4 separate regions of the Homo sapiens genome follow, and regions 1, 2 and 4 are each reported to be linked to region 3. Evidence: microRNA targets listed by miRTarBase, many of them from high-throughput screens and not tested one by one. Region 3 holds a microRNA gene; each other region holds the end of a gene's coding sequence.
What was found. The annotated mature microRNA hsa-miR-19b-3p reads UGUGCAAAUCCAUGCAAAACUGA and lies in region 3 at 4,369-4,391, shown strand. An mRNA with a match to its seed (bases 2 to 7 or 8) in the 3' UTR can be bound and repressed. Matches are read on the target gene's strand: a 7mer-m8 pairs with bases 2 to 8, a 7mer-A1 pairs with bases 2 to 7 and ends in A, and an 8mer does both.

Region 1: the mRNA of TMTC1 is a reported target of hsa-miR-19b-3p. Seed matches in the 3' UTR shown: 7mer-m8 at 5,612-5,618 and 7mer-m8 at 6,766-6,772.
Region 2: miRTarBase lists STOX2 as a target of hsa-miR-19b-3p. Seed matches in the 3' UTR shown: 8mer at 4,205-4,212, 8mer at 3,592-3,599, 7mer-m8 at 3,075-3,081 and 7mer-m8 at 1,094-1,100.
Region 4: miRTarBase lists SYBU as a target of hsa-miR-19b-3p. Seed matches in the 3' UTR shown: 7mer-m8 at 6,796-6,802 and 7mer-m8 at 6,617-6,623.

The regions. Positions count from the first base shown.
Region 1 is chr12:29,501,652-29,509,363 of GRCh38, reverse strand. It overlaps TMTC1 (transmembrane O-mannosyltransferase targeting cadherins 1), which reads left to right. Exons shown (of 18, transcript NM_001193451.2): 18 at 2,378-7,712. The coding sequence ends at 2,518. Among named protein-coding and RNA genes, the nearest start is that of OVCH1, 7.8 kb to the right of the region's middle. RefSeq lists an enhancer at 5,609-5,778.
Region 2 is chr4:184,016,608-184,024,244 of GRCh38, reverse strand. It overlaps STOX2 (storkhead box 2), which reads right to left. Exons shown (of 4, transcript NM_020225.3): 4 at 719-7,156. The coding sequence ends at 6,961. Among named protein-coding and RNA genes, the nearest start is that of STOX2, 120 kb to the right of the region's middle. RefSeq lists an enhancer at 6,558-7,057.
Region 3 is chrX:134,166,362-134,174,073 of GRCh38, reverse strand. MIR19B2 (microRNA 19b-2) reads left to right here and starts at 4,308; the gene lies at 4,308-4,403. MIR106AHG (miR-106a-363 cluster host gene) reads left to right here. Exons shown (of 2, transcript XR_007068340.1): 1 at 1-2,405; 2 at 3,722-4,924. MIR363 (microRNA 363) reads left to right here and starts at 4,622; the gene lies at 4,622-4,696. It overlaps MIR92A2 (microRNA 92a-2), which reads left to right and starts at 4,462; the gene lies at 4,462-4,536. It also overlaps MIR20B, MIR18B, MIR106A and the pseudogene TIMM8BP2. RefSeq lists an enhancer at 1,114-1,921.
Region 4 is chr8:109,567,986-109,575,290 of GRCh38, forward strand. SYBU (syntabulin) reads right to left here. Exons shown (of 7, transcript NM_001099754.2): 7 at 5,993-7,305. The coding sequence ends at 6,921. Among named protein-coding and RNA genes, the nearest start is that of EBAG9, 31 kb to the left of the region's middle. RefSeq lists an enhancer at 6,836-7,065.

The DNA.
Region 1 (7,712 bases), not on the chromosome of region 3:
GTTGTCTCTTGCTCATGACACTTGGTTATAAAAAGTAACGCTTCTTATGAAGTTTTACATATAAGATGAAGTGAGTGGACCAAGAAATTATAATACATTTTTTATCATCAAAGAGTTGCATCAACCAGGCTATAGCACAAAGTCTGATTTTCAGTACTGCCTCATGACAGTAAATATGCATTTTCTAGAATGGTGCTGTCCAGCAGAACTTTTGTGACAATGGAAATATTCAGTAGCTGCCCTGTCCGAGGCAGTAGCCACTAGCTACACATGGCTACTGAGCACTTGAAATATGGCTGGTGCAACTGAGAAACTGAATTTTTAATTAATTGTAACTAATTTAAATTGGAAAAGCCACTTGTGACTAGTGGCCATCAAGTGAACACAGTTCTGGAAACTGGATAATTCAGATTTTTTTACCTAGCATCTAGGGAATTGGAGATACTGACTTAAAGGATATAATTATTTTTTAAAATAGGGCTTCTAGGCTGGGCACGGTGGCTCATACCTGTAATCCCAGCCCTTTGGGATTCCGAGGCAGGCAGATCACCTGAGGTCGGGGGTTTGAGAACAGCCTGGCCAACATGGTGAAACCCTTTGTCTACTACAAAAATACAAAAATTAGCCGGGCATGTTGTGGTGCACGCCTGTAGTCCCAGCTACTCGGGAGGCTGAGGCACGAGAACTGTTTGAACCCGGGAGGCAGAGGTTACAGTGAACTGACATTGCACCACTGCACTCCAGCCTGGGCTACAGAGAAAAAAAAAATACAGCTTCTAGTTTAGTGAAGAAAAGGGCAATTTGAGGGAGAGAAAAGGAACTGCGTTCTGTGTGAAAGGACAGAGAAGCCTGGTGATCAGAGAATAAGATCCCAAGGCACTTCACTGGGGCTGACATTCAGGGAGCCTCCTGGAAGAATCATTTCAAAAGCAATTGCAGTCAAAACAGATTTTGAGAGCACTCTTAGACCCAGAAATGTATAGTTGTCTGCATGTAAGTGCTAAGGCTAATAAAAATCAGAAGACATTTGGAAGACATATCCTTGAATTGAAAAAAATAATAATTGAATATAGCAAATGCAAGTTCCCACTTGTTCAGCAATCTGTTTAACTTCTTATCAGAGTCATTGTTAATACTTCCTTTTGTTGTACATGCCAGTGCCTGGATATCTAACGTACAATTTCTTGTGCTGTCATTTCCACTTTCCTTTTCACCAATATGACCAGTAAATACAGTAAGAAATAGACACTATTGATACAGAGCCTGGATAGTCATTAATAACAGTAATGTTAGTATCGTATTGAGCACTCACTATGTGTCTAAGCTTTTGACAGGTATTTGGAAGATAGGTAAGCACTGGATAAGTATTAGTTGTTTGTTGCTACATGGTGTCTTCACTCTAAGAGATACAATTTTTAATTGTGATGGAAATGTAGAGGGTCACTGGTGTTTATCCACATGGGAGCTATAACTAAGAATAGATGGAACAAATTCATACTTTTTCTAATGGGGGAACTCCAACAATCTTAGCTCTGAGAATTTGCAGAATACAGATCTAAAAGAGGGTGGAACGAATAAGGGAGGTAATACATCCAGAAGCAGAAAAAATGCTGAAAAAAGCTAATAGCTGTGACTGAGTTGCCAGGGACCCCTTCTGGGACCAGGCACACATGGTTGCTAGTTGAAGAATCAAACAAAACAGTTGGAAGCCAACAGAGGGTGGGGACAGTTGTGTTTAGTAGGTCAGGAGTCACATACCATACTGCACTAAAAGTATATAGCTAATGCATACTGCTGCAAACCTGCAGTAGTAAAAAATTTGACTTCACATTCTTATCAAGTCTTTTCATTGCAAAAAACTTTATTAGGCAAAAGTTACTTTTACGTTTTAAGCTGAAGACTAGAATAACTGCTATCACTAAACAGAGAGAGTGGATACATAAACTATTTAATCATTCTTCTTGCAGTTTTAAAAACATTTTCTCATCTCTCATTCTCCCATCCCCTCCACCCCATTCCCCTAACATGAATTTTGTGCCATGGTTCCATTTTACAAGGAACAGTACTAGCCCCCTGAGGACACCAGGAAATGGTAACCTCACACCCTGCATTAGTAGAATTGAAAATCTGTTTTTCTGCCATTTATCCTTACAGTATAACTCTCCTCTTTCACATTCTGCAACTGATCTAGTGCTTAAAACAAATGGAGTCTTCAAAAGCACCAATAGACAAGGATAAAATTACACATACAGACAGAGTTTCCATATGAGAACATTAATGTAAAACTGGGCAGAGGGTCAGTTTCTTAGTCTCTTCATTCTCTGAGAGAGTTTTGTGATGGATCAGAATGTAATTGCTCCCTCTTTCCCACCCCCAGGGAAAATATGTGTCTGCAAGAGCTTATTATGAGAGAGCCTTACAGCTGGTTCCAGACAGCAAACTGCTGAAGGAAAATCTTGCCAAATTGGATCGCCTAGAAAAACGATTACAAGAAGTTCGAGAAAAGGATCAAACATAGCACCACCGTCTGACCCAACCTCATAGGATAATGTGGTGCCTCTGAAAGGGGAGTGATGGAAGCCTTGCTTTCACATCAGCAGGGGCACAACTAATGAGATTTTCTCTCATTCCGAGTTCAGGGTGACACATTTTGGGACATCTGCTGGTAGCCCAGTGCTGAAGGACTTGCTTTTCCATGAAGAAGACGAAAACAGCAAACAAGGGCAAGAAGGTCTGAGAGGGAAGGAGAATGACATTTACACATTTTACAGATTTTTGTTTGGTTTAACTCCAGATTTCTCTTGATATATCTCTGTGCTTTTGAGACCTGGAGATCTAATTCTGTTTAGACATTTTTTGTCCCAGAAATACAGAAGCTTGAAATGCTATGAAGGCAGAGCTTCTATTCTTTATGGGATGAAATATTTCAAAAGAGGATAAATCCTCTGTGGTAAGCCATTTGGAAAATCCTACCAAGAATTGGCTTATTTAATTTTCCAGAACCAGGAATGAGTATCTAATAGCTTTTGTAGAACCTTCCAGAATATGTGGGGAAAAAGGGCTATTGCTAAGTGAGCTTTATCTAATATCCTCCTAAGAGTTTTACTAGTGCTTTTTTGAGGAATTACAGGGAAGCTCCTGGAATTGTACATGGATATCTTTATCCCTAGGGGGAAATCAAGGAGCTGGGCACCCCTAATTCTTTATGGAAGTGTTTAAAACTATTTTAATTTTATTACAAGTATTACTAGAGTGGTGGTTCTACTCTAAGATTTCAAAAGTGCATTTAAAATCATACATGTTCCCGCCTGCAAATATATTGTTATTTTGGTGGAGAAAAAAATAGTATATTCTACATAAAAAATTAAAGATATTAACTAAGAGAAATGTCCTACTTTATTATCTTAATGTTCAGACATCATGAGATTTATTATTTTTTTGAAAAATATATTGAACCATTGAGGAACCTTTATGATGTATCACAGAAATCTTCATAGATTCTAACTAGATGGAAAAAGAGCTCTATTTATTTGTGTTCCTAGGCTTAATGAGAATTCTGGGCTTAGAACATCAACGATTAATACCCAGAATTCTTTGTTTTGAGAATATTATGGAGAATGCTCTAAAAATCTAGGGTAAAGATCTAAATTCAAATTTTAAATATATATTTATATTTAAGAAATAGGAAAGGCAAAGTTGAACTCACAATTTGACATTTATTTTTAGTGTTATTTATTTCATAACTTATAAAATATTTAATATATACATACACACTCTTCTTTTTTCTCTGTACAAAGTGGTTTTAATATCAGCTTTCAAAACTGATCTTATAAAATGTAAATCTAAATTGTAAAATAGTTAAGTTTTAACAGTCCCTCCCAAACTTTGTGTTGATTATTCACTTGCTAAAGAGATGTGAGGAATCAGCCTTCAGTTTTTTGGCAGTAGTATATTTTGGAAGTGAAGAAATTGGAACACCTGTTTCTAATTTGGTCTTCATCATTAGAGACAAAACCAAAACACTCCAGGCAGTACTGTTTATAGTGCTGAGCCAGGTAGCACACAGACATAGTAGCCTAAAGGCTCACATAATTCGCATGCTCAGGCCAGGGCAGGGTAAAAATAGCCTTCTGCTTCTTTCAACCCAGTATCAGGAAGCACTACCCCAGTGTTATTATTTGTTTTGTCAAGGTAAGTCTAAATAAACAAGAAAAACTTCTTCGGAAGGCATGGCGAAGGGAGTATTTTAAATGAAAATGATTACAGAATTTGAATTAGCATGCATCTCTTTGTGTGCAACAGTAATCCAAGAATGTATATGTTACCACTACAACCATTTGTTTCTAATAGTTTTTTCATGTTATATAACATAAATGTATCCACAACCTTAATTAAGAACTATTCTTCCCCCAAAATCATAGTCCTAGTGTCAAGAAACATACTCCAGTGTTTATTGTAAAATAACAACCACACCCTCAAATTGAAAAAAGTGAATGTCTAGGACTTTATTACAACTTTTCAGAATAATCTGTAATGAAAACTCATGCTTAAAAATTTAATGGAAAAGACTGAGCCCCAAATTTTGAATAGTGATTACGCCTTACTTGAAGTGCTAATAAAGGTAGGAGAGTACATTTGTTGGAATAACAGAAATGGTGATTTCAGCCTAAAAGTTTCTGAGGGTAAAGGATCACATGACCTTCAGGAAACTCTCTGCCTCCTGTAGGTGCTTTCCTATCTCCCCCATCCTTCCCTACCCCTTTTCCCTTTTCCTTCCTCTCTTTTTCTCTCACTGTCACTCTGTCTACACACACTGGCATCTTTTGAACACTAAAAGTAAGCACTGTTTTTTAAAAAAGTAATTATTTGTTGGATCAGATACTTTTATCCCAAGTGAATACCTTCACTGAGATGTGGCCAATGCAATAGTTTCACAGTAAAAACAGTGCCTATAAGAAAATAGATCACATACTATTTTTCAATGATATTAAGTGTATTTTGTAACTATTTTCATTTGGTCCTTGTAACATGAAATAATACATGGAACTTACCTTTATAATAAAAATGGAGTGCCCTGGTTCATCATAGAGGTGCATCTAGTTTGCCCTTAATGGAAGTATACTTGCTGTGTGGATTGATAGCACCTTCTTGAAATGGAGGAGCTCAGCTGGCCTCATGGATGTGCAATTTTTGCAGTCCCACAGGGCCTTGCATACAGAAGCACCCCGAGCTCAGTTGAATGTCTGTTTGATTTTTTCTTATTTATTTTTTTGAGACACAGTTCCACTTTGTCTTTTTGTCACCCAGGATGGAGTTCAGTGGCACAAACATGGCTCACTGTAGCCTCGACCTCCCTGGCTGAAGGGATCCTCCCACCTCAGCCTCCCAAGTAACCGAGACTACAGGCATATGCCAGCATGTCCAGCTAATTTTTGTATTTTTTGTAGAGACAGGGTTTCACCATGTTGCCCAGGCTGGTCTCAAACTCCTGGGCTCAAGCGATCTGCCCACCTCTGCCTCCCAAAGTGCTGGGATTAAAGGCATAAGCCACCATGTCCAACTGAAATTCTTAATAATTAATAATTTTTGAGCAAGAGGTCCACACTTTCATTTTGCACTGGGTTCCCAAACAGGTCCTGGGTAGGAAGGATGGCTGAGGATAAAACAGGAGTTGCTTTGGCCTGGCTGAACATTTGAACCAATGATCAGAGTTTCATTTTATGATTGTGTTACTCTGAACAGATTTGCTATTTTTTTCCAGCTACATTTAGAGTTCCTCATGTATATATCACCCCTCTTTTTCCAGTCCATCTAACCTCTCCTTTTTTTTGTGCCTAGAATCAGTTCTCCTTGCCTTCAAAATCCCTGATAAGTGTCCATTTCTTTTTGTATCCTTTGATGTAGAAGCCACAAGAATGGCTTTAGCAGCTTATTTTAATCTTATGAATTATTCATTCAGGATTTTTTAAATGATTCAGATGCTTTCAATCTGTTAACAGTATTTATAAAACATGTTTCAGTGATACAACATAGGTGAACTAAACCAAAGATGCAAATGCCTTGGAGGAAAAGAAATTGTATTATAGAGAATCCTGAGATATATCCTTTTGGGTTGTTTAATTTAAAGCCTATCACAAAACAAAGAGAATTGTCGCACTTTAATTCCAACCTCCTGCAGTACTTCACAACCCTTAGCATAAGATTCTGAAATTTGTAATAGGTGGTACCTAGTTTGATGCAGGGTTTTGCAGCAGTTGTGCGAATGCCTCTGCGCAACGGCCTTTCAGTCAGACTAAATGAGAAAATCCAAACTGTCCTATCAAAACTGACCCACAATAACTGTACTCTGAGGCGAAACAGAGCAAATGTGGGTTTCCTGTTTTCATTGTAAAACATTCCAGGTTCTCAGATTGAAGAGCTACATTCAGCTGATAGTTGACATCTGTTCCCTCACACGTAGTGGCTCTCAACACGGGCTGCACTTTGGAATCACCTGAGGACCTTTCGGAATCTTCGGTTGAATCATCCTGGCTGTCCTGGTGATGCTTCTTATGTGCAGCTAGGCTGGAGAACCACTACAGGGCTGACACCTGGAATGGGAGCTTGTAACTTTTACAAAATAATAGATGTTTATCATCTTTTGCAATTTTTACTTTTAAGTCTATACTAAAATGAGCCAAAGAAGTCTTAACAATGATGTATGGCACAATTGGTTGGTTGAGGCTATCATTCCATGATTACAAATAGGTGGTTATGTGGGGTGGTTTTGCACTTGTGGCAATTGGACTGCAATTTGGCCTTAAAATGACACAATTCCTCGTTCTCAGATGGAGAGGAATTGCCTTGAAATTTGCATGTACCAGACTAAGTGCCAGTATATATATGACTGATATTTTCGTGACTCATAGAAGGTGTCCATGGTATAGAGTTTATGCCTACATCTCTATCTTTATTTTGGGCACACATGAGCTTTTGTTAATTATTTCTTTGTACTTGTTAGAATCTGTTTTTGAAAAAAAAAAAAACTTTTGCTTTGATTTGTGGTGGATTCACCTTCTTAAAATAATAAATTTAGAGGATATTAGGAATGACATTCAAAACAAATATAGTGAGAGGTGATTTTTTAAAAATTTTTGTTCCTGGTTTCCAAATTATGTTTACTTTGATTTGATTATATGTTGGTATCTCCCAAATATAGGTTAACTTAGCTATTTAAATGGTATCTTTTGACATTTAAAAAGAATTAAGTACCTGTCAAATCTAGCATTGAGGTTGCAGTTGAATAAGATAAAAGCTTAGGATGTCAAAAAATAATATAGAGAAATATTATAAGATTTTATGATTATTCTTGACGTTTTTGATGCAAAAGGAAAATATGCTGAATAGTTCTTCCAAAAAATATTATTTCCCTCAATATTTTATTTGTAGCCATGTAATTTAAAGAGAACAGAAAATAACTGCAATCAAAAGTATGGTTTAATATCAATCAAAGTGGCACAACAGAATTGATAAGATCTTTATAACAATCAATTGGCTGATATTAAAATATTGATTTTAATTGATCTTTTCAATTAAAATCTTTAGGGCCTGTAACTCATAAAATCAGCATCCACCACAATATATGGTCATTATTGGTTTGTAAGCATAGATCACCATTGACTCCTACCTGGAGAGACATGTCTATTTCTAAAAATCCAGTAGTTTCTTTGCAT
Region 2 (7,637 bases), not on the chromosome of region 3:
AAACTTACGCAACAAAATACAACTTGTTCTTCAAAGCAGTTACCTTGGGGTCTCCAGACACTTATCCGTAGACACTGTCATTGTTCACAACAATTTTTGGAAGTCTACTTTGGATATTGCCTTTATAAGAAAATCAGGCTCGACTTTATGGCTCATTGTTTTTGACTGAGAATACCATTTCCTAGCTCCATCATTAACGGGGCAGCAAATCCCTTTGGTTTGAAAAAGCCCATTTTCTACGGGCAAAGATTTGCCACAGTGAGAGACTCAGAAGAATGAATGACAGCTGAAGGAGAATAAACATGGAGGATTCCGAACCTGTGCAAGTGACTCACTGGAACCTGTGAGCAGCCTCCTCGTGTTTACTGGGGAGAGGATCCCATCCACTTGGGAACAAAAGCTGAGACATGAGTGCTAATGAAAAAGAAACCCCAGACCTAATCACATCACTTTATAATTTCATATAGAAAATGTAGTTATAGGCATCTCTCTCACTCTGTTTTAAATTCAGTTACCTAAAAATGTGATTTTTTTCCCCCAACTTTCATGGAAAAAGAATTTTGATCAGAAAATTTTCATTTTTAGTTGTTTTAACTCAGAAGCTCTAATAATATTGAGTAATCACAATGTTATAAAATCCTATTAATTGAAGAGAGAAGTCAATTAACCTCACCTAAAATATTTTCTCTCAAGTACCAAAAAAAATCCACTTAAGACATATAACCAAATGTTATTTAATATCTTAAAAAGTAACACAATCCAAAATGGATATTTCACACAACACTACATAAACAACATGAACACAGTATCACCATAGGGAGGGACTTTCAAATATAGACTTACAAAAATCCCTGTCCTTTTTTTTCTTTTAAGTTATTATACTAAGCATGACAAGTAATCATCATTTACAGTATGGTACACTGACACGATAAAAACCATGTTACAAATGTGCTGTTATAAATCAGTAACATTAGGGAAGACATTTCATGAACTGTAATTATTTCATATGAAATACTATACAATATAAACAGAACATCCATCTTGGATGACCTTTACAGCAACCAGAGACCAAGTAATTTAAAATTTTTTTTCAGTGCAAACACATTTTATTCAAGGCAGTCTTGGCTGCAAAACTCCTTTCTAACATACAGTAAATCCCACTTGCACGTCTTAATTCATTTACCCTAATGCAATAGTCACATTCAGTCACTCAGAGAAAGATACCTGCAGAATTATGATCCCTTTAAACTTGACGTTTAAATTTAATTCTCTTCTAGAACGTAGTATCTGTGTCAACTGCTCTAAGGACTTTAATTTGTAGCTGTCAATACTTGCATGAAGGTGACCCTAGGGCAGCTCTATTCCTAACCCAGCAAGTGTGCACGATACTGCACAGTGTTCTGCCCTTCCAATGTGGAAACCGTGGCGGTGTGTCAGTATCTAGGTGGGAGAATGGAAAGGAGGACCTCGGAGGAAAGGAAGTGGAGGAGCTGCTGCATGTGTACTTCATGATTAGTTTCCCGGAACTGCAGAGGACAGATATTGGAGGAGATCTCAGGTCTCACATTTGGTACCTCTTCTTGGTGGGAGCAAGGGAACAAGTTTACTAAGACCAGCCAAGCTTCTAACCTTACATTTCCAACCTTCCAGAATCATCGCTGCCTGACTTGAAACACCCCATTCCCTCCTTGGCATGATGTGTGTGTGTGTGTGTCCACATTTGAAGCCAACAATTAATGATTACAGCCCTATAACTGATCATGTACAATCGTAAGAAAGTTTAGTTCCCCCTTGAGTCTTGTAGAATCCTGAATCTTGTGAATCATCAACTGTAAGTCATAGAACTGTAAAATCACAGGACTGTGTGTTAGGGGAGCCATCTCTGGGAATCTCCTTGTGGGCTGCTGCTGCAAAAGATGCAGAGAATTAACTCAATAGGAAGGTGCCAATGTCTGTTTGAAACACACAAGGAAATGTAATAATGAATGTTTTCATATATGTAATTTATGAAACATCGCCTGAATAAAAATCTGTGGGAAAATACTGGATGTATCCTTAATACCATAAGACCTTCTGGGAAAGGAATGGGGTGACAGTTGATTCTATCTCACTTGGCAAAGCTCAGACCAATAGTAATCTTTGTCCTGCCCACATTTTACTAACCCAAAGCAAAACAGTGTTTTCCATGCCTTTTGCATTCATGTTTCCTGTGTTCTAGCTCCCCCAAGCCCTAAACATGTGCAGAAAAGTCACTCACTACCAGAAGAGCCCTGGATGACGTTGACAATGGGCGGGATGGTCCTGGGGGAGATGGGGGATAGAAGAGATTGCTCCTGCTTGGGCCCACTGAGGTCTGGCAGCACGTGGCTAGTTGGTTCTGTGACTGGCCTGTGGTGACGGAGGAGATCCCCATCAAAGATCATCTATCTCCTAATTCGAGAAGACACTTAGAACTGGATCAGCTCCCTCAGAAATCCAGCTCCTCCAAAGTAGGGCTCGATATATTGTACTGATTTTCTATGGTGCCAAGCAGCACTGTGAAGAGTACTTGATAAAGTTTTTAATTAAAATTTCTGTTTCAGCACCTTCCACTGCCAGGAGCAGTCATGTTCCTGAAAGCTGGTGATTTAGCACGGGAACTATAGCAACCCAATATGAAACTGTAAACAAGGGTGTGTCCAGATCTGCTTCTGACTGCAGTGGCATTTGGGTGGATCTGTCAATCACCCGCTTTATCCATTGATACCAGTAAGGTGTGCTGAGATGTAAAATTCCAAACACCCTGAACTTTTTTTTTTTTAATGAAAATGGACAAAAGTGTCAAGATGTATTTGTTTTCTTTGACTTTATTAGCACACATCAGAAAAATAGCATTGTATTTTGTGATTTCTCATGATGCTCTATCAAACAGATAGAAAACAGATCATCAATAGCTGCCACTGTGTTCCTGGAGAATCTTAAGTCACTCCTTTTGTTAATTCGTTGTAAGTATGCGTATTACAAAGATGACCTGTCTTGTGAATTGTTTGTAAATCTGAATGCTTTGGAAGCACTTTGAGATCCCAAAGTGAATCGTGCAAAGTCATTATCGGTTGTTGTTGGTTTTTAAATGAAGCTCCAAATACTGCCCATGTTATAAATGGCAAGACTTTCAAAAAATGATCACTATTGTATTATGAGCAATATGCTTGTAATTTAAGTTAAAAACTTTATTTTCAAGTACACTTGGTGGTGATAAGTGGTTTATCCTGGGTAGAGTTTTGCAAAGCTGCGCCAACCTAAAAAAGGAACAATGCTTCTGCTTCCACTGAACAGGTTTCTTCTCCCCATGGTGACTGCAATGTAATTTAAATTTACATTTTAGATGCTGGTTGGGCTATGAAAAAGAGGGACCTGGGAACAGCTGGTGTTCAGATCATTGTTACTCCGGATTAACTGTGAATTGATGCTTCCTGAACCTGACCTTCACAACATCAGAGAAGAAGTAATTTGTTATTTTTATCCAGCTAGTCTCCATTCACCTCTTCTATTTGTTTTCTCTATTTGATGGCACCCCCCCCCCTTTCATATGTTCATTATGGTCCCCTGAGATGTGCAAAATATATATAATGGAATACAAATTATTTAACAGAAGTTGTGGAATTCACAGCACAGCTCTTTTAATTAAAGTGGAGTTTGGGCTCGACATGGTAGCATGCGAGTGAAGGCAGAGCCCGAAGTGCTTCAAGCTTGGCAGTCCACATTGCTTGTGTGTCTTCTGTTACTGAAAACTTAGACTTCAAATCAGATTTCCAAAAGAGTAAATAGCTCTTTCAATTACGTTCACCCATTGGCTCTTCGCCAGAGAACTTTTAACAGGAATGGGTGGAGGGCGGGGGTGGGCACAAGAATTTTTAAACTTCCGTTCATTCCTAACAAAATCGAGTGCGCTTTCGTGGGGAAGAGAGGAGAAGACAGGATTACATCTGAAAGCCAAACAGCGGCGTAAGAGAAAGCCATGGCGATGGAAAGTCATGAGTCCACAGAGGCAATCACTGACACACACAGCACGCCATGCCCTAATGTTGAAGGAAGTGTTCAACTTTGCTCTTCTGAACGATACACTTTAACACACGGCTGCCATTTCATCAAATTTATGGAGGTAGTTATATGTAAAAATAAAAATTACCATAAAGTAATATGTTGTATCATAATAATACATAAGTGTGCAAAATGCCGACAGATGTGTTGACCCTTTCACAGAGATTCAACCAGATTCAGTTTTGTAAACCTTTCAGCTGCTAAACCCTAAGACTGGATAAGCAGTCGTGTAACACAAAGCTATGATTTTACAGGAGGAAAGGGATACTGGCAACGCCTGGCGAGGCCCCCACTGTTCCGGGACCGAGAGCCTCACCGTGACCTCGAATGACATTTGCAATGTGCTGCCGGCTGCCACTCCTCCCCCATTCAAGAATCTCGATCAGATTCAGGCAGGAATATTTTTATATGCAACATCTGCTTACATGGTATCACCTTTAAAGTCCATCATTTCTACACTAATGGCTGCTGGTCTAAGGGAGTTTTTAAAAAATTATGTACCCCATAGCATCAGGCAAATAGTGTACATATTTATTTGAATAATGTCTTCTGTAAACCTATATCTTGTGAAATATCAATAAATTCCTATTTTAAAGCTTCTCTTAAAGGTAACGCTTTCCTTTCCTGTTCACACAGTATTCGATTATTTCAATGGCTACTTTCAGAGGATCAGCTAGAGGCTGATGTGTTGTTTCAATGGTTATATTATTTATGAACTGAGAGTAGAAGAAAAATTTGAGAGCAGGTTTTTGGAAAAAATGAATTTAGACAAATATTTAGTAACTGTATGATATATAACTCCCCAAGGGAACCAACTATGTAGTCTATTAGATACATGATCATTCCTTCTGGACATATTTAAGCAATGAGACAAACAATGCGTTGAGGCATGCCTTGGAGGAAATAAGGCATGAGACTGAAAGCCAACTGGCTTAAGCATTTCAATGGTATGGGAGTTTACTAAGAAACATGCTGAAGTTTCACTATAATAAGCAGAAAAAAGGAATTTACACCAAACTCAAGGAGTTCAGTTTGACCCAATGCAACTTCCAAATAACTGAAAAACTATGAGGGAGCATTTAAAGGTTTCAAGAATGAGTCCAACTGTGTATAGGACTGGATTCTTTAAACAGATTGCTAGTGATTAAACCTCATACAAAAACAGATGCGTCTCACAAATCATATGCCAATTACTGAAATTGGAGGTGAAAATATTCTAGATTTATTTTGGGATATATATATTTTATGGTGTATGGCTCCCAACAGCACATGCCACTGAACTAAATAAAACTTTATGTCAGAACACTTACTTGTGTCATATGTAACCCTTTTGCAAATAATATTCCATTACTACAGATCTGTCCCACTGTTCTCAGAAAATAAAACATGGGAACGTTGGAATGTCTCCTTGCTATAAGATGAAATTATTGGTCATCCCTTTGCTGCTGGGTCTTCTTTGTGTTCAACATGACATTGTAAACCAAAGCAAAATGTTAACAAACCATTTGGAAATAAGTTGGTCTAATTAACTACACATCCAGCTAAAAACGCCTCCTGAAATTGGTTACAAAGTATCTGTAAACATTACTCTGGCATAGTTCATGTATGCATAATTGTTATTCTGATAAATTTTAGGGGAGTACAAATTCGGATTATACCGCACTAGCAGAATGAGCACATTCTGTTGTTTATTACATGGGCACATGTATATTTCTAATCAAAAATTATTTTAAAAGTTTTCTCTATACATATCTTCCCAGGAATAAAAGGCCTGAAGTTCAACACTCCCTAAATTTGCTCTTTCCTACAACCACTAAAAATTATCTCCCACAGCCTAATTTAGGCATTCTATTTAAAACTACATAAAATAGATTTATGTCCTTCCATTAGAAAGAATAACATCCTCAGGCCCTACTCTTCATTTGTATCACAAAGAACATTTTGCTTTTAAACAAACTAATTATTGTATCTATTAGAGTAAGATAGGGTCATCCTAAGTATCACAAGGAGGAAATTCTCTTCCTTCAATATTTGAGTAACACCTTTTACAAGTCCACATCACCTTTTCAATCACCTAATGCTGTGCCCCAGCCAGACTGGAAATTGCTTTCCTTTGTCCACTTCAGATTCAAAGGCCTATATTCCTGTTTGTGATCACGGAAGGTTAAAAAAATCAGACAAGCATCTGTGACACTTCAAAACAAAACCCTGAAAACATTCACTCCCAGTGATCTCCATTGCGACCCCTTCTCACACACTTCCATGGGCTCCTGCAAAATAGTGTCACGAAAACTCACAGTGAAAAATGACTGGTGCATAAACAATTCACACACAAAGGGCCGGGGTCCCTTCTAGTTAGTTTGGCATCTATTTCCCTCAAGGTGGACCCTTGCATTTGACATTTCGTGGTAGCTTAGTTTTGTTTTTTGTTTTTTTTTTTTAAATTTTTTTTGTTTTGTTTTGTTTTTTTTTTTTTGGAAGTGTCAAGGATCAGTTCTGTGGCACCGTTTAACCACAGACTGGGAGCAACACGCATCTGTGGCATTTTAAAATGGAATTGGCAACTGCATGACATTGAAAATGCGTATTACACTTACAGTGTCTAGACTTTCCTATGTGTGCTCAGATACAATTAGTGAAGCAAAAGTATACATATCACCCCTACTGTTACTCAGTTGCTACAGAGCCATAAATGTGAAAAGCAATACTCTGAAATAAAGATTTTTTGTTTTTTTGCCCTAGCCCTACTTAGCAGCACAGTTTAAGTAAACACAAAAACTGTGGTTGAGATGCTTGTCTTTCCAAAGATGTAAACATCAGTCCCAGTGTCGTAAACTTTGCTGTATCGAATGAGACAGAAGATCTGAGGCAGAAGGACAATCACACGCTAGTAACAGAAGCTTGCAAGCAGTTGGAAGGTTTCTGTAGCTTCTCAGCTTCATTTGTCGGGGGCTCCGCGCTCGCTCGGAAGTTGAAGGCTGGACCAGCTCCACCATGGGCCGGGCTCAAAGCGGGGTTCTGACGACGGTTACTTTCAACAATGCTTGATGTGTTGGAAGCCAGGCTCTCCCGAGTACTAAAAGAGCAAAAAGGGTTTGTTTTGTTTTGTTTGGAACATAAATAATTATAAATTGAGCCCCAGAGGAAGAGCAAATGATGTCGTTAATGGATTTCCTCTGTTGGTTCATAATGTCATATCAATATACATCTCGACTGATTATTCACATCTGCCTCTCCACCACTGGCTCCAGAAGCTTCCACAGACATGTAATAATCAGCAGCACACTCAGTGAATAAAGGGTTTTTAAATAGCTAAATGCACTTTGAAATGTCTTCTCCTTTTTTTCACACTCAACGAAACGACTTCAAAATTTGAGGTGATAGCTAGCTATCACAGTGGTTTTTAAAACAGATACTCATAAATACACCTAAGTCATGATTTCATTTCAGGCTGGAAATTCACTGGCATAGCCGCTCCTGAACACACTCGATAATTTTATCCTAATGATTCCATTTTCATTCTGGATTAGCAGATTTCGACTGTGGGGGACTTGAGC
Region 3 (7,712 bases):
CGCGCCACTTTCGCAAAAACCCTTTTTTTTACTCCAGGTTTTGCTCCAGCTCAAAGGTACTGTTCTTATCTTGCTTTAATACAACGCTTCTTAAAGTCGGGTCTAAGTTCTCTTCCCTCCCCCTCCTCTTCTTTCCACTGCTAGTCGTTACCATTAAAGGTCGAAAGTTGCATTGCAGTCGGTGCAATCTCACAGGAGGGATCTGGTTGGGTAGTAAACTTCGGGCTGCGTAGTTTCCAGAAAGTATCACGCAGACGTGCCAGGGTAGGCTGCAAGGTCTGTTGCATGAAAAAGGGGAGGAAGCCCACCTGTGCGAGTGACTCGCGTTGGAGAAATGATTGTGGTTTTCGTTGCATCCACCGCTGACTCCTGAGGGGCGCTGGCAGTTCAGGTTGGACTCTTTCGCGGGCCAGGGGCGGGAGAGGCCAGTCTTTTGTAATGTTTGCCTGAGCTACTACTGTGCACCAGTGCACCAGGTTGAGAATCACATGGCGCCCTTGTCCTCTTCTGGGCTTTGGGCTGCCACAATCACCCTGGTAACAATGGTGGAAAGGGAGGGGTCCGGCTTCATTTTGCACCCCTTCCCTCCTTCCTTGCCCCCCGCTTGCCTTCCAGGGCTTTCCTCCTCCGACCCAGCGTGCTCACTGGTCTCTGATTTGTAACCTCGTACCCTGCACACCCCCGCCCACCCCCCCAACCCCCGCACGCTCCCCAAATCCCATCTTGCGCCTGTGTCCGCCAGGGACGCGGAGAAGGTATATAGCCCGGTTGTCTCTCATTTTGCCCGGTGTTCAAAGTCTGGTATGCTTAATTCCATTTTGATTGTGCGTCTTAAACTAAGACATCATTTTATTCTACAGAGCGCTGTCGGGCTTTGGCCTTGAAGCAGCCCGCCCTCAATTGGTTCTCATTAGCGGTGGAATGAGAGGAGAAAGCAAGATAATTGCACCGTATCTTCCGCACATTTGCGCGTGTATTCGGTGGCTGCTACCGTTAACGATACCTGCCAAGAAACCCTGATTTAGTGGGTGAAGAGGGCGCCTGGCAAGGGCGAAAGCCTCCCAACAGTAGCACAAGGTGCTAGGGGTTAAAACTTTCACATGTGCAGAGAGTAAGTCGTGTTTCTATTTCTTCCCTCCTCGGGCCTTAGGAACACTTTCAATCTAGCGGCGAGGTGGCGCGCATGCGCGCGCCGGGTGGGGGACACCCCTGTCCCACGGCTCCGTGGGCCTCGTCGTCTGTCTCCGGTGGGGGGCTGAGGCGAGCGCCGCGGGAGCGAGATGGGACAAGGTGGTAGTGAGTGCGCCATCCTGGCCCGGATGCCGGTGGCACCCGCACCGGCTCCGGCCACGGCCTCTGCCTGGGCCGCTGTCCCAGGCGCGCCTTTAATTAAGGACTCCAGCTTGGGGGAAGAGAGAAGGGAAAATGCCGACTGCGGTCCGCCCGTGGGTAACTGGGGCTCGGTGGGGTTTTCGCTTTGGCGGGGTGGGGGTTCCGTTTCCTAATTCCTGTGCGGGCCGGGTGGGCGGGGGCGGGCTTTTTTCCTTGGGCTATTAAAGGCAGAGGGGCGGGCTTTTCCCAGGGATATAGCTACGGACAGAGGGCCAAGGGGACGGAGCGCTCCTCAAGTGGTGGCAGGGAGGCTCGTGGCCCCGCGTCGCTCTGGACAGGGGCGCTTTGGGGTGAGATGTGCGCTCGCGGCCTTGATCCATTTAGTGGACGCTTTTTCTCACTTCTCTTCCCCTTCTGGCTCCGCGGGAGACTGCGCTCGCACCCGGCCCCGGAGCGCTCGAGCTGCGCGCTGGGACACTGGGTATACGTGTGGAGGGGACACCCGGAGAGGGCGGCCCGTGCGGGATCCCCGCGCTCTCCACCTGCGAGGGGCGGGCCGGAGCTGGGTCCCGCGCGCGGTTTCCCGAGCGGGTGGCTGGGCAAGAAGGGAGCCCTTCGTTGGGGCAGCTGTGATCCGGTAGAGTTGACTGGTTGGGTGGGAGGGGACGGAGCGGGCGGGACTTGAGAAAAGCAAAGTACCAGAGTGCGGTTGAGGGGTAGCGGGCAGCGCGCGGGAAACGACTCCCCTTTTCTTCTCCACCGTTGACCTTTAGGTTCCTGGAAAACTTTGGTGGTGAGGGTGTGAAATGAGGGGGTGCACGTGGAGGGAAAAAAGGGACTCCCCTCCCTCTTGGCTTCTATCCCACCAACCCGGGAATGGAGGGGGAGGGAGGCGTGGGCTTGGCGCGTTTTTGGTGCTTTGAATGGAGAACTCCGTTTCCCATGATGCTTTGTTTCTTTCTCTTTAATTTCGGCGGCGGCTGAGGCTGCACGAGGACTGGAGCGCGTGGTGTGAGCAGCTGGAGCACACCCTGGACGCGCGGGCTGCTCGCGGACTTCAACGGGAGCATTAGGTAAGGGTGTGAGAGACGCGGGAAGAGGCAAAAGGGAGCCACAAAGGCGTACAGGGAAGGACTTCTTTCTTTCTTTTCCTTATTATTATTATTATTATTTGCAATTTAAGGGGATTGGAGAGTGACTGCCCAGCGTGCGCGAGGGATGCCAGATGAACCGCTAATTAGCAAAAGGTAGTAACTAGAAGGGCGCCCTGTCTGATGGCTGTGGGGCTCAGTTTGGCCAGGTTGGGTTGGCAAATACTATGCATTTTGAGTCAAGTTTGGAGTATTTTTTTTTTAATGGAAAAGAAATCTTCACAGGTGTAGAAACCCAATTTAAGGGGAAAAATGTTATTTTTCTCATTTCTATACTAAATCCATTCTTCCCTAATAGAAAATTGATTCCAGATTGATGTATAAGTTTTATAAATCAGTTTAGTTTGTAAAGACTTCTAAAGACTCATTTAGTGGCATAAGATATCGTGACGAAAGTTCAACATTTAAAATTCCCTCACTCGTTTAACGTATTACAGATTCTGTCCCAAACGTTTTTGTTTTTCTTTTAAACAAAAGTTACCCCATCATGGAAGAGATAGGGGACCCTGTGAGCCTTTTTCACATAGAGGCTCACTTCCTTGCTGTATGTTCTTAGGTAAAATAAGCACTTGGAAATGGGAGAAGGTTTTCTTATGGAAGATAATGACATGAAGGGAAGAAGAGCTAATCTGCCTACTTTGGTTTAATGGAGAAAATGGGTCCATAAATGTTTAAACAGAAGTAGAGCCCTTTGAAATAGATCAAAATGTGACATCTCTCAGCCATCTGTGCATTATGTGAAGACTGTAAGGCTGTGTTTCTTAAACCAGCTCTAAAATTTCTCTCATTTTCTATTAATGGGGTGGGGGCTGGGAATATTCATTTAATCTAACAGTCACTTTCCGTATGGAGCCCAAAAGCTCTGAATGATCTGAAGACTCGAATACTCATCCTGGGTTTTACATGCTCCTTTCTCTAGGTCCTCCTCTTATAAAATCAGGGTGGATAGAATGTGCCTGCAAATTACTGAGATGCAGATATCAAATTTTCTTAGATGGAGAGGGGGAGTCCAAAATCTGCTTATACATAAGAATTGGACTTTTTGCAGTTGCCAGTGTTATTCGTGTTCAATTCTGTGTAAATAATTGAGATTATTAATATTTCTCAGGATTTGGTTGAAACCACAAAACCTAGCTTAGACTCTGTAAGCCAAAGGAAAGCCTGTTTCAGGAATATTAACTAGTAGTTTACTTGTTTAGTTTCTAATATGTGTGTGTTTGTTTTGTTGTTTTAACCAGGTGAGTCTGCATGGATCTGTGAGGACGGAAAAGAAGAGCTCCTGGAAGACTTAAAATTTTGCTACAGGAATAGGCCTTGGCCATGTAAAAGTGCTTACAGTGCAGGTAGCTTTTTGAGATCTACTGCAATGTAAGCACTTCTTACATTACCATGGTGATTTAGTCAATGGCTACTGAGAACTGTAGTTTGTGCATAATTAAGTAGTTGATGCTTTTGAGCTGCTTCTTATAATGTGTCTCTTGTGTTAAGGTGCATCTAGTGCAGTTAGTGAAGCAGCTTAGAATCTACTGCCCTAAATGCCCCTTCTGGCACAGGCTGCCTAATATACAGCATTTTAAAAGTATGCCTTGAGTAGTAATTTGAATAGGACACATTTCAGTGGTTTGTTTTTTGCCTTTTTATTGTTTGTTGGGAACAGATGGTGGGGACTGTGCAGTGTACAGTTGTGTACAGAGGATAAGATTGGGTCCTAGTAGTACCAAAGTGCTCATAGTGCAGGTAGTTTTGGCATGACTCTACTGTAGTATGGGCACTTCCAGTACTCTTGGATAACAAATCTCTTGTTGATGGAGAGAATATTCAAAGACATTGCTACTTACAATTAGTTTTGCAGGTTTGCATTTCAGCGTATATATGTATATGTGGCTGTGCAAATCCATGCAAAACTGATTGTGATAATGTGTGCTTCCTACGTCTGTGTGAACACACCTTCATGCGTATCTCCAGCACTCATGCCCATTCATCCCTGGGTGGGGATTTGTTGCATTACTTGTGTTCTATATAAAGTATTGCACTTGTCCCGGCCTGTGGAAGAAAGGAGGATTTTTATCGTCTTCTTATTTTAACTTTTAAAAGCCGTAAGTTCTGATATTTAGTCATTGTAAAATGATCTGTTTTGCTGTTGTCGGGTGGATCACGATGCAATTTTGATGAGTATCATAGGAGAAAAATTGCACGGTATCCATCTGTAAACCGCAGGACCTTTGTTGGCGACATTCCTGATCAGCGCTACAGTAAGCTAGATGGTAAAAAATCCTTTCTCTAGTTGCTGCTATTAAAAAATAATTTGAAATATATTTGGATTTCTAAAAACTATGATAGCTAATTTATAAAGTATGTGTTTTGGAACTTTGGTGAATGATCAGATTGTTACTGAATGTGAATGAACCTCAAAATAAATGAAATTTATAGATCTGAAAAAATGACTCTTTTTTTTTTAAAAAAAATAATTAGCAATGCTAGAGGAGTTTGTAAAATATCTCTTGGGAGGATCCTAAAGGAAAACTTGGACATAGCTGCTTTTCAAGTTTGCATCTACATAAAGCACCAAGATGCCTAATTTTAGGAATTTTATTACCCTGACAATATTTGGATGACATGTACTAATTTTGTTTTAGTACACGTGCTCATTCTTAGGAAGGGAATGAAGAGTTGTAAACCAATGGGACACATACCTTTAAGGAACTGGGCACATTTTGAGGTCTGACAGGAGAGAAGAATGAACTTGTCAATCAAACTCTGTTTTGGGGTTCTCGGAGAAGAGGATTTGGTGGCAGGGCTACTGAGAGGGATGGCTGCTGCCTTGCTTTGGAGTCTAGCAGATGGAAACCTGGATGTGGGCCTACTGTTAATATTTAGGGTTCGGGGGCTCCATAGGGTGACTAACCTAAAGCAGAAATTTCTCATGCGCAGCTAATTAGTGGTTTGAGACTGAACACCAAAAGTTATTTGGATCCTCTAGTGGTTCTTAAAACTTTAGCACTTACTAAGACACAGCCAGCCAACCCCATCTCCAGAGATTCATTCAATAGGTCTGGATGGGGCCTAAGGAATTGCATTTCTTTATTTTTTTCTTTTTGAGACGGAGTTTCGCTCTTGTTGCCCAGACTGGAGTGCAATGGCCCGATCTCTCATTCACCACAACCTCCACCTTCCGGGTTGAAGTGATTCTCCTGCCTCAGCCTCCTGAGTAGCTGGGATTACAGGCGTGCGCCACCACGCTTGGCTAATTCTGTACTTTTAGTAGAGACGGGGTTTCACCATGTTGGTCAGGCTGGTCTCGAACTCCTGACCTCAAGAGATCCACCCACCTTGGCCTCCCAAAGTGCTGGCATTACAGGTAAGGAATTGCATTTCTAACCTTTCCCTAGGAGCTGATGCTGCTGGTCAAGACACCATACTTGCAGAACCACTGCTCGAAAACAGCTAACGACAGCTTCTAGGACAAAGTTAACAAAGGAAGTTGTTTATTTTAAACTTCATAAAATTAAAAGAACTCGAAGCAGGGACTGGCTTGCTTTCCAGTTCTATGTTTCATATTTTAATGTTAATCTTTAACATCATGTATTTGGCAAATGAAGAAACGAGGCTTGTGGTAGTTTTACTGTCTGCCAACATGAACATTTAGTTCTCATCAAAAAGGTGCTGCCAAACTAAAAGATGGTATCAGTATGTGTCATTCTTACTTCCTGGTGCCATGGAATTTTCTAATTTTGAAACCCTTTTGATTTTTCCTCATAACATCAGTCCATTTTAATCAGTAAGAGGAACTCTCTCTGAATTGCATTTTAATCTTGAGCTAGTTGCCTAAGGCTTCAATTTCCTCATTAGGGGAAATACAGTGATAACATTGGTCTACCTCAAGGATATGTGGGTTAAGTAAGTTCTCTGGTGGTGGCGGCTGGGGGGATGGATTTTAATTGTTAGTGATGAAGTGAAATCTTAATGAAAAGAGACTTAGGGTAGTAAATTCTGTCGTCCAGTATTAAGTATGTGTGTGTAATTTTTTAAAAGTGACTAATGCTTGAGGCAATTATACAAACATAAATAACTACAGGTATTTCCTGTGTTGTCTAGTGCTGACTACGTTGTTGGTGCCTAATCATAGTTAAGTTTGATGTGGCAGCAAAGAAAAGGGTCTCCCGCCCTTTAATAAAGTAGCTCAGTAAAAGAGGGGATTAAAGCTTATTTGTTGTAATCCTTAACACCACCAAACCTCCACTTTAATAATACAAATTTATTGTCCTAGTGGTTCACTGGTGCTTTACCTAACGTGGCTAGTATGCAGTCAGTTATTGCAGTTTCCACTTTTAATAGGCTTGTGTGGAGGAGCTGTGTTCCTTAGGGTAGGCCACTCTGCCCACTAGAGTCAATTCCCTCACCTAAAGTTAGGGCCGAACTTGATGATCTGAGGACCCTTTCTAGCTTCAAAAATTCTGATTCTATATTTGCTCAAGTTAGACTAATCCAATAATTCTTTTTTTTTTTTTTTTGAACATTTCATCTTTTACTTTTTAGGACCAACAGACTTGATAACAGCCTGATGCTGATCTGACAATGGGTTGACAGCCTTCCCCCACTGGCCCTTAAGTCTGCTTAATAATAAGTCCTTTGCTTCTGTCATTCTCCTGGGGGATGGCCTACTGCCCTCCTTTCTGTACAATCTGGGCAAACCGACTGGTGATGGCAAGAGTGGTGTCAATGAAGTGGTCTACACAGCTGGAGAGACAATTTTCAGTGCAAGAGTCCAGGCGATTCCCTGGCTTCTCCACACATTTATCCCAACATAACTCCATGAAGTGATGCACCTGTGCAGTAAACTGCGCCTTCTGCTGTTCGGCGGCCACCAGGTGCTGCAACTCCGCTCCATCGGCTTCACCCAGCTCCGCCTTTGTTCACCTCAGACTTATCCAATAATTCTTCAAGTGTTTTGCATTGAAGTCATTTGTCTAGAATACTTGGGAATGGGTTAATTTAAGTCATTAATCATGGGCAAAATTAGTAATATCTACATACGACATATATAGCTTGCTCATTTTTAAATAATTACAGTAAGTTCAGTAGAAGCACTGCCAGGTATAATTTCTATCTTTGGTTCAGATGGTAGTTTAATATCCCATGGCTTTCCAAGGTCATCAGTATGGGCATTCATTCCCCTAGACAGAAGAGTCAATGTGGCACAGGTATGAATGAGCCTAAACATATGTCAAC
Region 4 (7,305 bases), not on the chromosome of region 3:
AGTGTTCAGTATAAGCACTCAATAATTGGAAGTTGGTATGAGGCCCTATATACTTCCCACATCTCACCATGCAGTGGTATTGGCAGCCCCTTCCCTGCAAAGAGTGGGAGAAGTTGCCTAATCTTGCAGTATTTTATACACCTTTAAATTGAACTTGAAATTTAGCAAGAAAGAAAACATTTATTGTAAGTCTGAGTCTTTGACTAATTATATCAGTGACTCTTAGCAATCCTGTAAGAGATACTACCCTTATTTCACATATAAGGAAACCAAGGCCTAGAAAATAAATTGTGTACTTGATTAATGGAATGGAAAATAGCAACCTTAGAGAGGAGGTTATAATAGTGGTTAATCAACAGTCTATGTAGACTATGATTTCTAAGGCCTCTCTTGACGGAACTATGAGCCGCCAAAATGCCTTTTAAAGTTTCTCCTAGTTCTTAATGAAGATAGCATTACAAATTATAGTAGATAATACCCATTTGTGTTTTCTAATAATTTAATAAATATGAAGAAAATTAGCTTGGTTTTTATTTTCATATAAATGACAACTGTAGTTGAATATCAGTGCCATATAATTTCATATTTGCAGTTTATTTGGGTCAGATAAGGCAAAATGAAATTGATTTATATTCACACAACTGCAGAAATAAGCCAATTAGCTCACTTGATTGGGTCATAATTATAATGAGGTCAAGGCCACAGGTTCTATGCATGTGCAGATCAGTATCGTACGTAGAGTCCTTCCTGCTACAAACTGTCCCTGACCTTGTCAGTTATTAGTGAGTGTCTAGGATTTAGTTGAGAGAATGAATGGCACAGAAGAAAACATCTCCTTGTATAGAAAATTCAAAGGACATACTCTGATCAGTATGTTGACTTATTCTTGGAGCAATTTTGGCTCTTTATAAGATATTAACTACTGCCCATAATTAGTTTTATTTGTTAAAATATTCAAACCTTAATTTGAATTCTTATACAGCAATGCCATTTCCAAACCTGTTGACTATTCCTGAATAAACGCAGTGCTTACCTATTTTATGGAGAAAACACCATCGTCAGATATAGTGGCCTCTGAAATTAACTCAGCATTTTATTGCAGTGCTAAGTGAAGATGTGCATAAGAATATAGATATATTTAGCTTGTCACATTTAAGTTTAAAATGTGAAAATACAAGTGCTTTTTTTGCTTTGTGAGGCTCTGCAGTGCATCTGAACCTCGTAATTACCTAATCTGTCTTGATTAGAAGGAGCCCTTATGGAGTGAGACAGTGCACGGGCGATCATTTTTAAAACTTGTCCATGTACAGCTTCCAGTGGGAGATGTAAAAATTATTGTCAGCTTTCATTTTTCATTTTCTGTATACAACCAACAAGCTAGAAATAATGTGCTGGTTCAGAAGAATTAAAGGTCAGTTTTAAATGCCAGCACCTATTGTTTACTGTAGAAAGTGAGGCTGGCAAACCATTTCAAACATTGTGAGCTACTTTAATTGCGAGGAAGGGGAGAGAGGGTCTTAACTGCACCATCAAATTAGAGAAGCCATGATACCTACCTTTAATATTCACAAGGGGAGTCAGACTTGATTTTATAATACATTGTCATCTTATATGTATCATGATAGTCCCAGATACTTACGTGGCTTCTATAATCTGAGGGAGAGAGAATGAGTCCTCTTCATAGTTAGACCAACAAAGCACTGGCAGACAAAATTTTGTAACAAAGGTTTAGAAAACAATTTTGTTAAGCATTCCTTATTTAGGGCAACAGAGAAACATATCTTCAGCATTAACCAGAGCAGTATTTCAAGTAACAGTTTTCATACGTGAGATCTTACATGAACTGGAAGTTTTCAAAGAACCTGGTATATAGGGAAATGACATGCAAGCTCTTCTCAGAAGTAATACCAGGACCCCCGCAGGGGGCCAGGGGGAGGCCAATGGCAGGGCTTCCCGCCTGTGCAGTCATTTGTATGTGTTTTATATATTGGAGTGTTTAAAATACTTATTAAAGTTGTACATCTTTTAACAAACTTGAATGCTTACTAAAAATATTTCAACCTTCTAACAAAAGGTCTTCTAAGTAGAACTTAAACCTTTTTTAAATTTTAAAATTCTTTGAAGTTATTATTGTAACCATTAGTTATAACAATCATTATGATTGTGGGAAAATCAGTGGTCACAGCAGTGCATCCAGTGGGTTTAAAATAATTACCTGATATAAGCCTGTTTTATTCTATTTGGACTTTCTAATTGTTTTTGTTCAGGACAATTGAGAGTTTGTTGACATTCTTTCAAGATTTGTTATAAACTATTAATTTCCTAGGCTACTGCCTCATTGTGCACATTTTGCCGGCAAGATTGGAAGGAAATAATATTTTTTCAAGTGCTCACTGACCCAAAATGGAAATGGGAAACTACCCCAAATCTTTTAAAATGAAAAACCCTCAAGAGGAAAACATATCAGACCCAACCACTACTTAGGCAGGGCCAAAGATTAATGCAAATCACAGTCTTCCTTTTTCTTCTGCCACAAATGTCAGAAACGCTTGGCATCTGAGTGCATGGCATTTTTTCCCCTCTTTTCTGAACAGCTCAACTTGGAAAGGTCAACATATCCCTTTGGGAAAAATCTTTTCTTATAAATTGGAATGTTTGCACACATAACTGTAGGAAATGTTTAACATTTGCTTTGATGGGACAGCAATTTGTTCAATAGAGTGGAATTGTTCTCGTTTTTTTTTCATTTTCCTGCCTGTTTGTACACCATAGGCACTCAAATTACTGAAAGCAACTTCGAGGCACTTCTTTCTATGGGATCAGATCATCCTGTCCACAAAACCAGCCAATGCCTTGGGCTTCCAAAAGGCAAACATGTTCCATCTTTTATTTACTCCAAGGGACTCATTTGTGAGAGACTGTTCTGAATAAAAGCAGTAATTTTCCACAGACTATACAGCTGAAACCCTAAAGAAGCAGGAGAGGGAGGGTGAGGGGGTGTCCAGTGTCTCCAATGGGTTGTTTGAATCTTTTGGTTTATGTAAAGGAGGATATAGGACATTAAGACAATAAAACTATTTGCTATTGGTGATCAGCTACATCCAATCTGACAATTAATAAATATTTGTGGTTTGTGGAGAATTCTTTCTAACCAGAGCCTATCCTTTCCCTCCAACTTGAATTGATGGAGAACAATGCTGAGTTTGTGTAGTTATATTTGTTTCTATGGAAACAAGCAGATACTCAAAACAGGCTTATAATCTTTTTAAAGTAAAAATGCTTTTAGCAATGACTGCAAATAAGCACAAGGAGGGACTTTAAGGAAGATACCAGTATCTAAGTATTGATCTGGGCTGGACTACAGGAAGGGACCTGAGTCAGCATGGCTCATTATTTCAGGACACTTCCGATTATTCAGAAATAGTTTCCCTTCCATTTCAAACAAATCCTTCTACTGCTGACTAGAGCTGCAAGACATGTAAATACAAATGTGTGTGCTTGAGACACGTGTGTATTCCAATAGGAATGTCCTATCAGAGACAAACCATCTCTCCTCACACACACATTCCCATGCCCTGGATCCTATCCCTTCTTTTCAAAGGCTCTCCTTCTTCAATTAATTTATAATTTTTTCTTATTTTTTCCCTGCTAAGTCGTTAATTTGTTTTTCTTCATTGGCCTAATAACAAAAGCATACAAACATGTTCTGTCTCTTCTCAATATTGAAAAATTAACCTTTGACCTTATGTCTCCTTTTAACTACCACTCAATTTCCTATTCTCCTTAATTGTAAAACTTAATAAAACAAAAAAATTCAGCAGCACATATTTCACTTTCTCGCTTCCATTCACTCTTCAACCTGCTCCAATTGGCCTCCCATCCCCATTTCTCCAAGGAATGATGTTGACACAGTCATTAAGACCTTGCTGTCAAAGCCGGTGAATATGTAACTATTCTCATATTAATCTCTTGGTGGGACTTCAACACAATTGACTGCTCCATTCTTCTTGAATTACTCTCTTCTCTTGGTTTTTATACTACTAATCACCTAGTTTTGCTCCTACATTTTGGGCTGTCATTTCTCTGGCTGTTTTGTTGGTTCTTCATCCTCCACCTCTATCTAAATATAGAAGTACCTCAGAAATCCATTTTTGACCTTTTTTCCTTCTCTACACTCTTCCTGGATGACCTCACTTGTTCCCATGGTTTTAATTACCACACAAATGCCAGAAAGGTTCAATGTTATAAGTCTAGTCCTGACAGCTCCCTTGATTTTCACATTTATATATGCAGTTACTCTTGATATCTTCACATAGATGTTTTAATAGACATCTCAGTTTTATTTTTCCCAAACTTGTTTCTCTTGAACTCTTCCCATTCTGAGCAAATATGGCCGCCATTGATCCAATTGCTCAAGCCAAAAACCTGAGTCACCCTTATTTTTTTTCTTTTCCTTACTCCACATTTAATCCATCAGCAAATCACATTAGTTCTATCTTCAAGCTATATCTGTAATTTTTCAACTTAAACTCTGTATCTACTTCCACCTCCAAATTGGCATCATCTCTCATCTGGACATTACAATAGACCCCTAAATGGCGTTCTTGAATAAACTGAAACCTCTACCATGGTTTGTGTGGCCCCATATGAAGCAGCTTCTTGTCTACTCCAACTTTCTCCTTCCTTCTCACTCTGCTCCAGCCACACTGACCTCCAGGATGCTCCTGTCACACTCTGAGTCCTTTCTGTCTGACGGCCTTTGCATTTGTTCCTCTTGCAACAAGATTTTGTCCCATATTTTTGCATGATTGACTCTTTTTCATCCATTCCCACCAATGTTATTTCTTCAGAGATGTGTTCCTTACTTTCACCTCTGCCACACTTGGTCAAAATACCTTATTTCCTTTGAGGCATTTACCACTATCTGAAACCATCTTTTGTTTATTTGATGGCATGTTGTGTCCCTCACAGACACAGAACATAAGCTTCCTGAGGACAGAAACCTTTTCTGTCTCCTTCACTTTTTAAGACCCATCCTGGAAAGTGCCCAGTTAGCATCGGAGTACCTGGTAAATATTTGCTGGATTAATTAATTCATTCAACAGCAATTTTTAGACTTCCCACTATGTGCCAGGTGCTGTACTAAGTTATTGTTAAATTTTAATTTATTTGTAGAAAATTAAAATATTTTAAAAATATTTTGTGGGTACCCAGTAGGTGTCTATATAGGGCTCATGAGCTATTTTGGTACAGGCATGCAATGTGTATGCAATAGTCACATCATGGAAGATGGGGTATCCATCCCCTCAAGCATCCTTTGTGTTGAAACGATCCAATTATATTATTTTAATTATTTTAATATATGCAATTAAATTATTATTGATTATAGGTTCCCTGTTGTGCTATCAAATTCTAAGTCTTATTCTTTCATTTGTTCTAGGTTCTTGACATACAGCTGTGAACAAAACAGAACAAAGATCCCTGCCCTCATGGAGCTAATATCTCAGTGGGAAAGATGGGTAATAACCAAGGCATTGTAAGTAAAAGGGTGGTATATTTAAAGGTGTTAAGTGCTATGGAAGAAGAGTTTCTGGATGAGAACTTGGGGTATTATCCAGCCTCTTTATCCTCCCTTTGTGTGGCAAAGTAGAAAAGGCATTTGCTTTTGCAAACACTTGAAATCGTGGCTTCTGGAGATGAGCTCTGAGATCCTGAACATTTTTCCTCTTTGAGGCTTAGTTCCCTCAAAGATATGTGTAAAATACTAATCTCAAAATTTTGGTGTAAGCACTAGATGAACATAGATCAAATACCTTCTCATCCCTTCCCAGCCACCCACCCTCATCCTATCATTCTGGGGAAGGAAGCTATATGGCACTACCATATTCTCCCTCTCCTGAACACCTAGCATGCTTAGATCAACCCAATGTTCCTGAAAACACTCAAGATGTACTTACTGCATAAACATATGGACAAAATAGTGTATGGGCAATTTAAAAGTAAACAAATCTACTTTTATTCAGAAATGATGCTTTTTAAGTAAGGGTAGGAAATCTTCATTTTCTTTAATAACTAACTCTTTTTCCCTCTTCCTAATTTAATTCAATTTTTACAGACCCCCTATTGATAAAGATGTAAGATCTGCTATTCATTGTCTTTCTTATACATAGAAGTAAAATCACAGAAATAATTATTATTTTATGGGAGGATAAAACATTTATTTAAATGGAAACACTAATCTTTATTTTCATCATGCTGAAGTGTGTGGTTACAATTTCCAATAAAACACTATATATAATAAGCAAAATAAGTTAGTACATTGTAAACTTATGCACAGTTTCATCAATTAACAGTTTAAGAACAAACAAGCCATTTAAGACTTTGGAGCTACATTTAGTAAAAAATTGCAAACACTCAAATCTTATCAACCCCAAGTAAGACAGTAAAGAGCTATTCAAGACTTCTTCAAACCAATTACACAAATACATGTTTATTTTTGGTTACAGTCCCCTGCTATGCACAAGACCATTGGAATGCTGGAACAATTACACATTTTAAAACGGCAAAAAGCAAAGCAAGGAGATAACATGCCAGCCTTAGAGAAGCTGTCTTGAAAGTGCAAACTGCGTTTTCTCTTCCTGAACCACTAGGATAAGAACGGGTACCTCAGACGACACGGCAGGGTCATGAGCATGCTTTCTATACCCCACTGGTGGGACATTTACTGGAACCAGGTCTCCATGCCTTTGAAGATACCTCCGGTTTTAAACAGTGAACAGGCTTCAACTAAATATAGTGCAAATCAAATACCAAGGAGCAAAACGACAGAATAGAGACTGTCACAGATGATTGACTTCCTGTTTCTCTACCTGGCACAACCCACATGGGACACATTGGCACACGGTAACAACAACTTCTATTTAGGTTTTGATACGGAAGGCGGTGCGGCGGAGCGAATGCAGGGCAACCACGCAACAGCCCCTGAGCAAGGCCCCGATGTTATACACAGGATCCGTTCCCCCTCTCTGAGTACTGAATGCCCACAGAACCGTGGGGACCACGGGGGCAGCCACAGCCAGGAGATCCACCAGGAAGCTGCTGCTCCAGTACTGCCTCACGACGCCCCCGCGAGCCAGTGGGATGACACCATCCAACCTCTCTTCCACGCAGGCTGCAAAATCCAGCTCTCTCATGAGGCGGTTTGCATGAACTTCTGCATCCACATTGGCGTAGGGGGTCTCCACGGGAGACAAAAGGATGGCTGAGTTTGGATTTCTTGGAGTTAAATCAACCACTAAGGCAGAG